Regions from separate parts of the Homo sapiens genome. Here region 2 is linked to region 1. The links come from fine-mapping of genetic effects on gene expression. Tissue or cell type: whole blood. Region 1 holds a variant in brackets; the other region holds the start of a gene. All regions are shown on one strand. Distances are between the middles of the regions.

The links. PIP is the estimated chance that this variant, and not a neighbour inherited with it, causes the effect.
Region 2: it holds the start of ECI2, and the variant in region 1 is fine-mapped to the expression of ECI2 in whole blood (TOPMed, PIP 0.99).

What each region holds. Positions count from the first base shown.
Region 1 is chr6:4,074,789-4,082,893 of GRCh38, reverse strand. It overlaps FAM217A (family with sequence similarity 217 member A), which reads left to right and starts at 3,757. Exons shown (of 7, transcript NM_173563.3): 1 at 3,757-4,042; 2 at 5,446-5,539. The coding sequence starts at 5,480. It also overlaps the pseudogene LOC124901553 and the pseudogene TEX56P. The variant C/A (reference allele first, on the strand shown) is at 3,918.
Region 2 is chr6:4,132,483-4,140,587 of GRCh38, reverse strand. ECI2 (enoyl-CoA delta isomerase 2) reads left to right here and starts at 5,013. Exons shown (of 10, transcript NM_206836.3): 1 at 5,013-5,077; 2 at 6,877-7,039. The coding sequence starts at 5,028. ECI2-DT (ECI2 divergent transcript) reads right to left here and starts at 4,516. Exons shown (of 4, transcript NR_103764.1): 1 at 4,340-4,516; 2 at 3,186-3,227. LOC107986559 (a long non-coding RNA gene) reads left to right here. Exons shown (of 2, transcript XR_001743933.2): 2 at 106-254. RefSeq lists silencers at 4,458-4,667, 4,828-4,967.

The DNA.
Region 1 (8,105 bases):
GAGGCTGAGACAGGAGAAGTACTCAAGTACAAAAGGCAGAGTAATTGGGGAAAAGGCATACACGTTTATTTAGCATGTGTTTATACATGGGAGTGTACAGAATGAAAACTCAGAAATACAGGGGAGAGTTTCCATTTTTATGCTTAGGTTCAACAAAGTATGGACAGCTGTGTAGAAATACGATAGGACAAAAAAGGTCTGATCTAACGCTAACAGCCTGAGTGGGGGAACCCAGCAAGGCCTGTCTCTCTAGATTCTTCTTGGCCTCTCTGAGCAGCATTCCTTCCTTCTGGGTATGGGCCACTCTCTGGAATGGGGGTCAGATAATTTCTTTATGGCCAGTTTTTACACAGAAAGGCAAAGGGAAAATTGGAGTAATATTTTTAGGTTTTATGGCTGGCTTTGGGAAAAAAGCATTCTGATTTCTGTAACCTGCATTGGAGAAGAGGGATTCTAGTTTCTCAGGCTAGCCTCGGAGGGAGACTGGGACTGAGAGACAGGAGGGCAGAAGAAGGTCAGAGAAAAACGTGTTTCTGAGGCTATTTCCGAAGCCTTCATTTTGGGGTACTGTTTTCCGAGCCCCAACAGAAGGAAGGTGCATTTTCTTTGGCCTTGGGATTGATGTTGAGCTGGGTCTGAGCTGCTGTAGAAAATGACCCACTGTCCAACCTCCTACGCTGGGCCAGAGCCAGACCAGACCCAAGGGTTTGGAGAGGGCACAATTTCCAAGTTGTCGCTTTCATATTTCACATCTCCACAGCCGTGCACATTTAGCAATGAGGGAATGGCCAGCCATGATTTTGATGCTGATGTCAAAGCATTCAAAAGTCTCCAGAGAAAGGAAGACCAGTTGAGTGGGGGTGATAATATGAAAGGAACATTTTTAAGAATAAGTTCTGTTAAGAAAAAAAAAGAATCTTAGAGGATGTATTTATGGATGACAAATCTCACAAGGACTCTAAGGGATCAGGAATCAGTTTGAGTTCTGAAATAACAGAAAAAGGCATGAACAGAAACACAAAGCAAGGAAGAGGGGAAATGTGTAAGCCAGATATTTGGAATTTACACACACGTGTGCATGTGCACACACAAGCACACATAATTTGTCTCAAGAGCGGGGAACATTTCCCAGCTAGATATACATTTGTAGAAAGCATTAGCTGGAAATACATGTACCCCAATATTTACTCCCATTCGCAATTTTTCTCGTAATTGTAAGGTGGAAAAGGTTATATAATACATCTAAGGCTCAGGTTACTCAATTATAAAATAGGAATAACTAGGCTGAGCTCAGAGACTCATGCCTGTAATTCCAGCACTTTGGGAGGCTGAGGCCAGCAGATCACCTGAAGTCAGGAGTTCGAGACCAGCCTGGCCAACATGGCAAAACCCGTCTCTACTAAAAATACAAAAAATTAGCCGGGCGTGGTGGCTGGTGCCTGTAATCCCAGCTACTAGGGAACTAGGGAGGCTGAGGCAGGAGAATTGCTTGAACCTGGGAGGCAGAGGTTGCAGTGAGCCGAGATCACACGATTGCACTCTAGCCTGGGTGACAGAGCAAGACTCTGTCTCAAAAAAATAAATAAATAAAAATTAAAAATAAGAAATAAAATAGGAATAACTGGTGGTACCTGCTTCATTGGATTATCAGGCATATACATTGGTTAATCCATATAAAATGTTCAGCACTATGCCTGGCATATAGTCACCACACCATACATTTCAGAAAATACTATTTTTGCAATAATTAAATCAATTGAAACATTTATTGAGTGCCTTACCTACTACAGTACATGCCAGGCACTCTGTTAGATAGAATATGGGCAGATATCACCTTCAAGGTGTTGAAAAGAAAGTGATTGAGACGTTGTAAATGAATAATTACAATGTAACTGAGTAAGGGGCTGTAATTAAATCATTATAACGAAGCAAGGATCTTGGAGGAGACAGCAACTTTTGTTTTCTCTCCTTTTTTTTTTTTTGTATTTTTTCTAGTAATTACACTTCCTGAACAATCAGGAAAAATGACTTGTGAGTTAGAAGTGTAATGACTAGAATTTAGGCAGGTTAAAAAAGAAAAGGAGATAAAAAGGAGGTACTATTACAGGAAGAGTAACAATGATGTATGCCCTGGAGGAGAGTGTTTAGGAAAATTGTAAAATGTCCGATGTGCTTGACATGTAGTGGGCGCTGGGAAGGTGATGAGCAGATACCTAAGGGATGGCTGCAGAATTAGGGTTTCCTCCTTCCGGCATTAGGAGGCAGTTGAGCAGGTCTGTATTTTAGAGCAGCAGTATGGAAAACAGCCGAAGGAAGAGAGGGCCCTAGAAGGGAAACCTCCAAGGAGGCTGCAAGGAATGAGGCCTGCACAAATCTTGTTCGTTCACTTACATCGATTGTGCTTCTACCACTGTGCTTCTACTATGTGCCCAGCACAGTTTTAAAGGGTTGGGGATACAGAAATGAACTAGACAGACAAGGCCCCGGCCCACATGGAGTTTGATATTCTACTGGGGAGAGACAGACAATACAAAAACAAACAAGTAAACAGCAAGATTATGAGGAGTACAAAGAAGTAAATAACAACGGGGTGTCATGAAATAGAGTAAGGTAGGTGGAAGGTGGGAAGAGCTTCTTTAAAGGGAAGGTCTTTCTGAGGAGAAAATGGAAATGCAGAGGAAAGAGTCAGGAGTCAGGGATCAAAGAACCTGAGAAACCCCTGACATTGTTTTCAACATGTGGTATATAAGTGCATTTTTATGGGGAGATTCTCAGAGGGACATGGCCGTGATCTCATCCCCCCAAATGTTTAGTATTCATTTGCTGTACCTAAATATATAATTAATTTTGTTTTAAATTTTTCTCTATATCAAAAGGTGGGGGTGATGATAGCTATGCAGATATATCTAACTAGATAGAGAGAGATTCTTCCCCCACCCCTCCACTTATTTCATGAAGCTGTAATAGGAGATATGCATTTCGGGGTACAAAATTGGGCTGTGTGATTTACATGTATCCTCTACATGAAAAAAGAAAAAAAATCATCTTTTGTTTTTCCTATTGAAAGGCCGACGACGGACCTGAAACTGACCGGATGAGCTTGGTGTCAACAAGGATGCCTCTTCTTCTATGTTAATATATTGTACAAGCATAGATATAACTTCACATGTATCAATGCGTATATATTGTAGCTTAGTCTGGAGGACTACGTACCGGGCGGTGCTCCTGGCTTGATGTGAGCAGGCGGTGGGAATGGAGGGTGGAGGCGGGTGGGCCGGGCCCCGGGTCCCAGAGGCCCACTGGCCATGTCGCGGAGAGCTCAGCCTGGAGAGGCCCAGGGAAGGGCCTGGAGGCCTCGGGGAAGGCCTGGGGAGGGTCAAGGAAGCCCGAGGAGGCCCAGGAAGGCCGAAGAAGGTCCAGGACGCCTGGGGGAAAGTCCGAGAAGGCCCGAGAAGGCCCGGGAGGCTCAGGCTTTCCCGCGAGGCCGGGGGCGGCCCCTTCAGGCCAGGATGGCCGAGTGGGCTGCGCAGCCCCGCGGGGGAGGCCGGGCGGGGCGCAGGGACAGGGCCTGAGGCTTGTTGTCCTCCCCTGGCGGCCCCGTGCGTCCCGCGGGCCCGGCGGCCGGGTGACCCCCGAGAGGCTCCGCGCCTGGGCGGCCGGCGGCGACCCCGCGGCCCGCGAATACGCGTGGACCTTGTGGAACGCCGGGCCTCCCCGGGCGCCCCCGCTCTCTGGTAGTTGCCGGGAGACCCGGCCGGTGGGGAAGCCCGCGGAGCCGCAGCCCCGGCCCCGGAAGGTCTCTCTGGGCCCCGGGCCCGACTCCCACCCCTGCGCCGGCCCGCGGGCTTCGCAGGCCCTGCACTGCCGACCGGGCTGCGCTCAAGGCCGCCAGCCGCCCGCCGCCCTCTTTGTCCCCC[C/A]GCTGCAGGAAGGCCGCGGCAGAGGGGGCGCCCTCCAAGCCGTCAGCCACGCACGCGGAGGCGCTCGGGCCTCGGGGCGGCGCACCGGGAGAGCACGCCGGGGAGGACACGTGGGCCTTCGCGCGGTGGGTTGAGAGCCCCGGCCCCGGGGAATCCCGCAGCCCCCTCCTGCTACCCCTGGAACTGGGCTCCCCACCCAGTCCGGCCACAGCTCAGGAGGAAAAGGGGATTCCTCTTCACGGGGGCCTTGCGGCTCCCTTGAGACACGCGCCTTCAAGCACTCTGGCCCCTAAAGCTCCTGTCCCCCAACTCGCAGTCCCCAAGGCGTCCTTTGTCCCCAGGGCCGTCCTTCAGGTGCGGTGGCCTTTTCCAGGAGCTGGATGCCCTCCTTCTTGACACACACCCGGTGGCCCCAGGCAGCGCCACCTGCTCAGCAACCGCCTTCCTCCTGCATTCAGACCTAGTGTCTGGCATGCACACACTCGTGGACCAATAACCGGTGTTGGCTGAAAACCTACCTAAACTAAATCTCCTATTTCTTCATACACTTTTCTGTAGGAGACAATCAATTGTAAACGATTAGCAGATAGACCGATTACTGCGGTGGCTTTAATTTGTGATTCTTGGCCGGGTGCAGTGGATCACGCCTGTAATCCCAGCACTTTGGGAGACTGAGGCAGGTGGATCACGAGGTCAGGAGTTCAAGACCAGCCTGGCCAACATGGTGAAACCCCATCTCTACTAAAAATATAAAAATTAGCTGGGCGTAGTGGTGCTCGCCTGTAATCCCAGCTGCTCGGGAGGCTGAGGCAGGAGAATCGCTTGAACCCGGGAGGCGGAGGTTGCAGTGAACCGAGATCGCGCCACTGCACTCCAGTCTGGGCAACAGAGCGAGACTCTGTCTCAAAAAAAAAAAAAAAAAAAAAAGTGATTCTTTCCAGATAGCCATACCTTAATCCAGTGACTGTTTTGCTTGTTACCTTAGAGTTCTCTAATTCTTTTACCTTAAACGGCAGTGGGTTAAAACCCTTTAGGTACCTTGATTGATTGGTGCGGAAAATATTGTTTGGTCCTGGGGGCATTTTGTTGTCTCCGAAATATGCACGGGGTGCTTGCCTGGCCTAGTTGTAAGGGTTCAACCCTGCTTTCAAATGGAGCAATTGTTTTGAATGAATAAAAGGAGACTTTGTGCCCCTGTTTTCTAAGTTCCAGATAATTCACCATAGTTTGTTCCAATGTGTATTTCATCTTCTTAGCTGATATTTGCTTTCTCACCTCTGATCTCAATTTCCTAATCTTCTGTTCTGAGATCTGCCAGTTTGCTGTTGTCTGTGCTCCTTTTGAGTCAGGCTTGCCCCTTGCTTCTGGTTGGTTTCGTACTGTCACCCCCACCCTGCTCTCCTAGCCCCTCTCTTCTGCTTTCTAAGCATTCTCTTACCTCCTTTAGATGGGAAATCAAAACTCACACTTTCTTTTTTATAAATGTTGACCCTTACCCATAAATGTGCCTATCCCGCAATCTGTGTAGGATTTTAAGGAAACAGAGCAACAGCTACAACAAAATGGGGAGAAGAAATGAGAACTGTGCTAACAGCCTACGTGTGTCAAACATCTCTCAGGAGGTATGGCAGGCGCTGTTGAACTTGAGTGTTTGGGCAGCGGCTCCTGTTGCTAACACGTAACTCCCATGGAGTTTTCTTGTAGTGATGCCCTTGCTGCGTTTGCATCGTGGGCAGTTTATCCTGTGTTTTCCTTTTGGCACATTTGGAACAGCAAATGGAAATTTTCTATTTCTTTTAACAAAGGGAAAATTAGCCAGCTCTTCTCCAAATGTCAAACATTTCTAATTGCAATTTGGCTTTGTTAAAGGTGCTGCCTTGTTATCAACCAGGCAGTGCTCACTTCTTTTGTTTTCACACACACACCCTTTGTGAAAAATATTGGTAAGGCAGGTGGGATATCACAAAGCATAATCAAGTCCCAACTCTTAAGAAATTTGCAAACTGTCAGACTTCATGTTTAGTTAATGAGCATTCTTTACCAGTTGATCAATTTGGTTATGTTAATTTTTTGTTGTTTTGGTGTTTTTTGTTTGTTTGTTTTGGAGACGAGACTTAGTCTTCCTCTGTCTCCCAGGCTGGAGTGCTGTGGCACGATCTCAACTCACTATAACCCCCACCTCCCGGGTTCAAGCGATTCTCCTGCCTCAGCCTCCCGAGTAGCTGGGACTACAGGCATGTGCCACCACGCCCGGCTAATTTTTGTATTTTTAGTAGCGACATGTTGGCCAGGCTGGTCTTGAACTCCTGACCTCAAGTGATCCACCCGCCTTGGCTTTCCAAAGTGCTGGGATTACAGGTGTGAGCTACCATGCCTGGCCTGGTTTCATTAATTTTATTTTAGAATTGCAACAACACAGTTTCATCAGCTGAGGATATTTCTCTCACGTGCATTTCATACAAAAGTATCAGGATTATATAGCTGAAAAAAGCTTAAAAATCCACCAGACATCGTAAAAAAGTCTGAAGGGGTGCATCTCACACATGAACATAAAAACCCAGTCATCGTGCTGTGAACTACAAAAGGATCTTTAAAATACAAATAACTGGGCCTCACCCTCATTCTTTTTTTTTTTTTTCTTTTTTTTTGAGACGGAGTCTCACTCTGTCACCCAGGGTGGAGTGCAGTGGTGCTATCGTGGCTCACTGCAACTTCTGCGTCTCGGATTCAAGTGATTCTCCTGCCTCAGCCTCCCAAGTAGCTGGGATTACAGGCACCCACCACCACGCCCAGCTAATTTTTGTATTTTTAGTAGAAATGGGGTTTCGACATGTTGGCCAGGCTGGTCTAGAGCTCCTGACTTGAGGTGATCTGCCCGCCTCGGCCTCCCAAAATGCTGGGATTACTGCCACTTGAGCCACTGCGCCCGGCCCTCACCCTCATTCTTTAAAATCAGGATTTGCAGCATTTTTTTGCAACTATTATTTTTAAAAAGCTCCCCAGGTGATTCTCATGTAGAGATTAGCCCTTGTACATATCATGCCAGAGAGCAGAGAATTAATTTTATTAATTATATTTTTCATAAATCTATAGAGAATGATAATCTGCAGTCTCCCTTCCAATGTTCAACTACCCTTCCTATCAGGAGATATCTCTTTGTGGATAAATTAATCCTCATGCTGTATTGAAGCTTATTTCTCTCTGTTCCTCCTTAGTGAAGAGATTGTATCTAATAATACCTCACATTTCATTTGCTTAGAGTTTAATTTACAATGCTTTTTTGAGACAGAAAACAATTGGGTTCATTCCTAAAAAGTTACTTTCTTATAAACGAATCACCTCTTCACTTTCTGTTTTCCAGAATAAATTGTTATAATCTTCTACACACCTCCCACATTTTCCCCCATAGCACTCTGCACAATGTCTGGAACATAAATACTCAGTTGTTATTAGCACCTTTCCCGTTTTATTTTTGGCTTTCTTTTGAATATTTCCTAAGTGTTCCTCCACATCTGGAAGCCAGAATGAGTAGTGGGCTGGTTAGTGTTGAATATAATATGAGGGTTAGAGACTTCCTGTGGTTGATGGAAAGATTTTTACAGGCTTTTATTTTTTTAATTTTATTTATTTATGTATGTATTTTGAGACAGAGTCTCACTCTGTGGCCCAGGCTGGAGTGCAGTGGTGTGATTGCAGCTCACTGCAACCTCCACCTCCTGGGTTCAAGCGATTCTCCTGCCTCAGCCTCCCGAACAGCTGGGATTACAGGTGCGTGCCGCCACACCTGGCTGATTTTTGTGTTTTTATTGGAGACAGGGTTTCACCATGTTGGCCAGGCTGGTCTCAAACTCCAGACCTCAGGTGATCCTGACCTGCCCCGGCCTCCCAAAGTGCTGGGAGTACAGGCATGAGCCACCACACCTGGCTTTTTATAGACTTTTAGATCTGATACTCAGATATAGAAAGTTTGATGAATGCACCATTGTGTTCCAGAGGCACACTGAACAGGACATTTTATTACATTTTAAAAATCAATTTTGAAAACCTGTGTTATTATATTTAACAAAATGTGAACGAAACCACAAATTATTGTAAAAGCCTGATTCCTCAACAATAGGCATTATCAAACTGATAAGGGCTTGGTTAAGAGAAAATTGCTTTCTCCTCAAAGATGCTGATAAGTTCTTT
Region 2 (8,105 bases), 58 kb before region 1:
ACACAAACTACGAAAAATAAGGATTGACTATGTTTTTCTAATCTTATTTAAAGTCAAGCTGCTGATTTATGGATGGAATTTTAAATTTACTTCTTTCTTGTGCAGAACAGAGAAGGCAGGAGCACCTTTGCTGAGTCAATAAGGATACCACCTGCCTACGAACCACGGATGCCATTCTTGAACATTCTTCTCAGCCCTTAAATGCATGTAAATTATATGACATTGTGTTGAATACATATAATTGTCTTTGTGGCTCTCTGTGGTTAACTAAATTGTAGGTATTGTTCTTGTTCTTATGTATTCATTAGGACAGGTAAATTAATTTAAGCTGTGGTGTAAACAAGAAAAAATGGAATGACTTCAGAAAAGCAGCCATTTCTTACACAGTGTATCTATCAGTTCCAATCATTTTCAGAGGGAGAGTCCTCCAAAAATAATTTTTTTTTTTTTTTTTTGCTACAGAAGGATAGTTGAAAAGTATCCTCAAATACAAGGTCAGGTTAATGCTTGTGCAACATACAGAAAGAGTGGATAAAAGAGCCTTGGATGAATGAACAAATCACGCAGGTGTAAAGCACTTAGACAGAGGTGATAACATGAGCCAAATGTTTACTTTTGAAATGACTTTCTTCTCTAAATTATAACGATGGGAAATAAGAAAAACACCCCAAAGCAGGTAATATTCCAGCATACTATTTTTAATATCTCTGACATATAAGATTGTGTAGGAAGGCAATACAAAGCCTAGCTAGGAAGAAGAAAAGAGGATTAATTTTGTAAAGGAGACATAATAATGCCACAGGTTTAATTTATCTCAAGCAATGTCATCCAGCTAAAGCAGGAAACAATTATGATACAGAACGTTGAACGTGGACTAATCATTTTAATGACTAATGGAAAAAGCTATAATAGATTTTTCACCCAGAAATTTATAGAGTTAAGTAACACCACAGTTGCCTTCGTACCACTCTCCCCAGTTCATTTCGGCACAGGAACTTGGCAACAGTCAAAGTCCTCTGCCTTTAGCTACCACTCACTGAAAAAGCAACATTTCAAACCACAAAAACACTCATGTTAACACCTTCTGACAACTTAATGAAAAGGTAGCAACTGACTCACAACTTATTATCAAATGTGGAAAAGCACGCTCTAGAAGGAAACTTTCAACAGCTCATCCATCATCCAACAAACCTTCACAGAGTACAGTATTTTCTGTCAAGCAGTGTGTCCAGAAATGAGAAAGGGGTTGAATACAGGGTAGAATTCTTCCCAGGATATGCCCCTTGTAATAAAATAGATTACTAATCAGATATAAAACACAGTGACATAGGGGCCAGAAGAAAGAAACGCCCAGGAGACTGTAGGAACTCAGGACAGGACTAACCAGTGGGTGGGTCAGAGGAGATTCCTGGATATGCCAATGCCTGGAATGAGAGAACCTGGAAACTCAGAGAAACTGAGCATCCCAAGTTCACCTGAAATGGGAAGTTAACATGTGGGGCTGGAAAGAGGTGCCTGAGAAGGTAGGCAAGGGCAAATCTTGTGGGCCTTATTTGCCAGTGCTAAGCAGCTTGGGTTTGTTTAACAGGCAAAGGGGACTCACTAAGAGATTTTCAGCCAAGGGGAGAGATCGGGGAGAATCGTGTGGAGTGTAAGATTTAAAATTTAGGGAGACCAGCCTGGAAGCAGGGAGAGAATGGATTGCAGAGGTAACTGAATTAGCAAAACTGGGAAGTGGCTGCTACAGGAATCCAGGTAACAGTAATCTCAAAATCAATGAGAGCATGAATTAAGACGATGCAGAGGGATGTGAGATGAGGGGGAAAATTAAAAAAATATATTTAGGAGACAGAATCACTAGTATTTGATGAATGATAGATGTGAGGTGTCAGTGAGGTAAGGGAATCAAAGACTCTTCCAGGTTTCTAGCTTGCACTGTTAATTGGGACAGTGTATCAGAATTGTTCCTCAAGACTGAATGTGACAGACTCTGTACATGCTGTAACAACAGTATCTGATGATGTAAATATTGGAAATAAAAATTATCATGACTGACAGAGTCATCATGTAACATTCTACTCTGATATAATCTATTCTATGATCTTAAAAAAGAAACATTCACACTACCACTGAGCACAACACTGTGAAGTCGATATGCTGACCCCAAAGATTCATTATAGCCGGAGACAACACTTCCTGTGCACCTGCTAAGAGAGTCTGAGATTCTCTCAACCCAAAGAACATCAACGGCCCTCCCAGGCAGCATCAGTCCCCTGCAATCAATAAGACAGGATCTAACCAGACTGGAGGACCCCCTCCCCAAGATTTTCATAAGCTCCAGGGGAAGCTGGTTATATAACAGGGTGAAGATTAGAGCTTTAGAGAGGTCTTGACTGAGTTTCTGCCTTTCCTACTCTTATCCAGAACCATTACACCCTGAAGATATATCTGGAGTCCAGGATTTCACTGAGAACTGGATAGCTGGGCATGCCAATTGTATCTTCAATGGCTCTCTGCTTGCTCTCAGCACGGAATCCAAACTCCTTAGCACAGATACAATGATCTTCAAGCTCAGGTGGAGAATCTACCAAAATCACAATGGTTCCCTTTTGCTGCAACTGGCCCTCCCACCCACAGGGCCATGGCAGCCATGTTTACAAGGCATGGTCTGGACACCTCTTAACAGTTTAGTAAACCAAATACGGACCCAAGATGACCCTCTTTAGGATCTAGGAATCTAAATGTCTGTCTCTTTAACCAGGAATGTCTGTCTCTTTAACCATCTCCTTTCTCTCAAATGCTGGATATAATGGGGCTTTAGTAAATGACAGCTGGTAGATATGCAAATGATTTCTCCAATAGGAAAAACATTCCTCCCGAGGTTATGGTTTTATTGCTCTATGGGATATTAACCAGTTTTGTTTCTAACTTTGCAATCTATTCCAGCATTCTTTTTTTAACATTGACTATATTAAACTAGTCTTTTAACTTCTTCTTTAGCACCCTGTTGGTTCCCTAATTAATGAGCTAAGTAAATCTTTGACACATGCTCTTTCTATATTTTTAAAATTATAGTTTGAAAAAGATAAGCTAATTTCCCACACCCCACTCTTTTCTGTGGTAGGTATAAGCCTGAGAGTAGTTTGCTTGCATTGCAAAAGGTTTCACTATCAAAATATGCTTACCAGTATGAGATTTAAAAAATATTTCCATGACAGCTGTTTCATCTTCTGGAAATGAATGAGTCTTGTATTATCTGCAATATCTGATTACTGCATTTCCATTACCTCTGAGGTTATCTAACAGCCTTGGAGAGAGTCAAGGTCTCTGAGAGAGGCAGCTCAGCCTACCAACTACCACTTTGTAATATATGGAGAGGCCAGGTGTGGTGGCTCACACCTGTAATCCCAACACTGGGAGGCCGAAGCGGGTGGATCACCTGAAATCAGGAGTTTGAGACCAGTCTGACCAACAAGGTGAAACCCCATCTCTACTAAATACAAAAAATTAGCCGGGCCTGGTGGCGCATGCTTGTAATCCCAGCTACTCGGGAGCCCGAGACAGGAGAATCACTTGAACCCAGGAGGTGGAGGTTGCAGTGAGCCGAGATTGTGCCAGTGCACTCCAGCCTACGCAACAAGACGGAAACTCCATCTCAAAAAAAAAAAAATCTCTTTGGGATAAGCCCAAATTGTTCTATTTGACTTTTGGTGTTGCCCCATCTACACTATTACCCAGATCTACCTGATGAAACTTAATGATAAAGTTACTTGAGACTTGGACTCTGCCCACCTGCAAGCCTCCTGTCTTTGGGGAATTCACCTGATTAATCTTTCTGGGTCTCAGTTTCCACATCAGCTCAACAGGGCAATATGCTCAACAGGGCAATTTCCACATCAGCTCAACAGGGCAATATCATTTTCCTTACAGGGTTGTCCAAAGACTTACAATTAGCCTGGCTCACTATAGGTAGTCCACAGGTGTCAGCTACATAAATCTAAAACTCCTAGGCATGCTTGGATGGGACAACTTGGGCACAGAATTTAGAGGGGTGGTTTTGTTTCGTTTTGTTCTGTTTTGTTTTTTGGTTCTCTGGGAACTGGACAAGGTGACACAGCCAAGGCCCTTCCAACTCTTAAGAATTCTTCCCCAAAGAAAATACTTTGCAAATGCCTCAGCAGAACTCAAAAATATCCACAAACTCTTCACTGACACTAAAAACTTGGGTACTCCAAAAATCACTTCTGACCCCCAGGCGTCCTACCAGGTCTGCAAACCTTCGATTTGGGGATGCATGACCTAGCAGCTTTTAAGCATACGCCCTCAATTGTTACCCCACCTCCCGGCTCAGGGCTGGCCCTCGGGATGCAGCGACCCCTCCTCGCCAGGCTCCGCGGGACTCCGGGCAGGGCGCTCAGTGCTCCGGCAGCCACAGGGTTCGCAGAGCTGAGGTCCGCCCGAGAGAGCAGCCGCGCCTCCAGCTCGCAGTTACTCGGAGCCAGGCCGGGGAGCATCTGTGCCCCGCCCCACGCGCCGCGCAAGTCCTCCCGGGATCACCCTCCCCGCGCCGCGAACCCCCCGCACTTCCTCCACTCCCGGGTGATACCCGGCCTCGCTCCGGCCCCGCCCCCGCATCTGAGCCCCGACTCCTAACCGCCTAGAGCTCCCGCCCCGCCCACGCACCGACCCCCCCGGCCCCACCCCCGAGCCCCCGCAGCCCCAGAGGAGGCCACGGGCTAGCGATGGCGAATGCGGCGTGGCTACGCTCTCAGCCTGGCCCCGCCCCAACCCTGGCCCCGCCCATGCCCCAGGCTCCTGCCTGGGCTCTGCTCTCGGCCCCGCCCCGCACCCAAGCCCCGGCCCCACCCCCGAGCCCCCGCAGCCCGGGAGCCTAGGCCCCGCCCCCGAGTCCCGGCTCCACCCCCGAGACCCGGCCCCACCCCCGAGCCCCCGCAGACCGAGCTAGGCCCCGCCCCCGAGACCCGGCCCCACCCCCGAGCCCCCGCAGCCCTAGAGCCGCCCAAGGGATGGCGATGGCGTACTTGGCTTGGAGACTGGCGCGGCGTTCGTGTCCGAGGTAAGCTTGGAGTCCCGGCCGTTCGGCCCATGGTCGCCCGCAGGATACCGCTGTCCAGGCGAAGGTCGCCGCCGTTGGAAGACCCTCCTTCCCTATTGTCTAGGTGGCAACAGGATTTTGCTTTGCTGGTTTTCCGGTGAGGTAGTGCTAAAAAGTGACGACCTCACGCGCGCCCTCCTGCACCGCTGGGCCCGGAGTGGTCAGGATGGGCGCGTCGGGAGGTCAGGGCTATGGTTCCCTGTCAGCAGTCCCCAAGGTCTCCGCCTGCCTCCGCGCACGCTCCCATCCTCCTGGGGCCGGACTCCGGGCGGGTGAGCCGCCCCAGCTGAGCACCCGGGCCTGCACTTCCCAGCCGGGCTGCTTCTGGGGTGCAAAGCGTCGCTTGCTAAAAGCGAGGTAAACGCAAGCCGTTATCACTCGTGTGGACTTAACACTCTGCTTCTTGGAGAACACGTATGCTATAAAGTGAAATGGCCGGGTACAGAGTAACGGCTAAGAAGCACGCTGCACCTCCCTGGGGTCCCGGGAACCCGCACGAATCTGTGCATAGGGAACAAAACCGAAACACGGTGGTGGCCTTGAAGTGGTAGAATTATGAGTGATTTTCCCGACTTTATGTATTTTCTTAAATGGTCGTGTTTTTGCTATTTGTTTTTAAAACTCACGCTTTATTTAAAAATAAATTTGTTCCACATTTTGTGGAAACTTGTACATTTCGGCTTTCTGTGGATATTTTAAATTTTTCTTTCGTTTTCTACGTGGAATTTGCCATATAAGATGCAGTTTTTCCCTTTACAGAAAATCATTTTAATGTAAAACTTACTCTAGGCTGATCTTACTGAATCAGTTACTAATAGTCCAAAGTTTGAACCTAGAGTTCATTGCACCATTTTCGAGTTACATAATTGTGTTTGTGTGTTAGGTTTGGGCTTTGTAACCTGTATTATTTTAATCATCTTTTTTGCCATTAACTCTATTATTCAGTGTCATCGTCGTGAACTCCATTTTTAGCTTGTGGCCTGAGTCCTGTGCATTCAAGTTTGCCACCCCACCCCCGCTCACTATGTGTGCTTAAAAACGTGCTGATCACCCCCGCGGTGGTTGCTGTTTCTGCTCTGTTCCTGGCTGGCTGGTTAAACATACCCATAGAAAGGGGCACGCCTGCTGAGCCCCCTTCACTGACTCCCTTCCACTGCAGGTAGATTCCCTCCCATCTGCTGAGAAGGCTGTGGCTCTATCTGGAATGCCAGCAACTGCTCGTGTGTTCTTTTGAATATTTCTTGTATGTTCACATCCATTCTCCCCTCCTTCCACCTGTGTGTATGTTGGAACACCAGCTTCGCCAGCAAAGAGGCAAGAATTGACCTGATATAGCTTATGGCTTATCAGTGAGTGCAGAGGCTGTTTCAGGACTTTGGGACACTTCACTAAATTCTGTGCACTTTAGCCTTTTGGTTTCCTGCTGTCCACTGTCTTGCATGCACTTCACTTCTTGCCTTTGGCAAAATTTACATGGTCATTCCTGTTCTGGCTGCTTTTATCTTTAGTTGCTTACAGATACCTCCCTGGATGGTTACTTTTCCTTTTATTTAAAGTTACTACTGTTAGCTTCTGTATTGACTTATTATCTTGGAATCCTTACAGCCAATTATTTGCAGCCAGTTTGCTGAGGCAAGTATAAAGAAAATATCTATAGACAAACATGGCATTTTGTTATGTATAGGCTGGGAACAATTAGAAATCAGGCTGCAGAAATGTGAGGGTTGGGAACAAATAGAAATCAGTCTGCCTAATTGTAGTTCTCTGCAGGTCACTAGTTTCCCGGTAGTTCAGCTGCACATGAATAGAACAGCAATGAGAGCCAGTCAGAAGGACTTTGAAAATTCAATGAATCAAGTGAAACTCTTGAAAAAGGATCCAGGAAACGAAGTGAAGCTAAAACTCTACGCGCTATATAAGCAGGTAAATGCCTACGGTCGAACGTTATTTAAAGAATTTTGGGCAAATGACTTCTTAAATAAATACACTGTGTGTTTACTAAAATGTGGCCTTAACATTTTGGTTTGTCTTGCTCCCTCTTCTCTGAAGAGTGTGTGTGTGTATATATATATATGCCAGTTTTTTATATTAGACCTTGAAATACTATTAAGGCACAAAGTGCCTCAGTGTCACACGAGTAAAAGAGACTTACGAGATATAATATTCACATTTGTAGACCTTACTTAGCTCTTGATTAGAATAAATCAACTGAAAAAGGTATTTTTAAGACAATTGGGGAAGTTTTGAGTAAGGACAGAGTGTTAGAAGATACCTAGAAATCATCGTTAATGGTGTCAAGGTTATATAAGAAAATGTTGATATTTTTAAGAAAAGTGTACTAAGGATATAGGGGTGAAATAGCATGGATAGTTGAAGTTCTCTAAGCACAAAAAGAAAAGGATAGATGAGGCCAGGCATGGTGGCTCACGCCTGTAATCCCAGCACTTTGGGAGGCTGAGGCGGGCAGATCCCTTAAGGTCAGGAGTTTGAGACCAGCCTGGCCAACATGGTGAAACCTCATCTCTACTAAAAACTCAAAAATGAGCTGGACTGGTGGCGCACACCTGTAATCCCAGCTACTTGGGAAGCTGAGGCAGGAGAATCGTTTGAACCTGTGAGGTGCAGGTTGCAATGAGCCAAGATTGCGCCACTGCACTCCAGCCTGAGTGACAGAGCGAGACTCTGTCCAAAAACGAAAGAAAATAAAGAGAGAGAGAGATGAAGCAAGTAAGGCAGTTTGATAATTGTTGAACCTGGATGATGGGTATTGGGAATTCATTATAGTATTCTACTTTGGTATGTTTGGAAATTTTTATAACAAAATTTAAAAACTAAAGCTCTTAAGTTTCAATGCCAAAGACTTCCCTGGCATGTCTGCCTCTCTGGGCTCCTGTGTTATCTATTTTTCTGTCCTATGATGGGTATGAGCTTCTCTTTCATATGGGTGTGTATAGTAAAAAATTTAACCTTGCCCCAGAAGAGGTGTGGC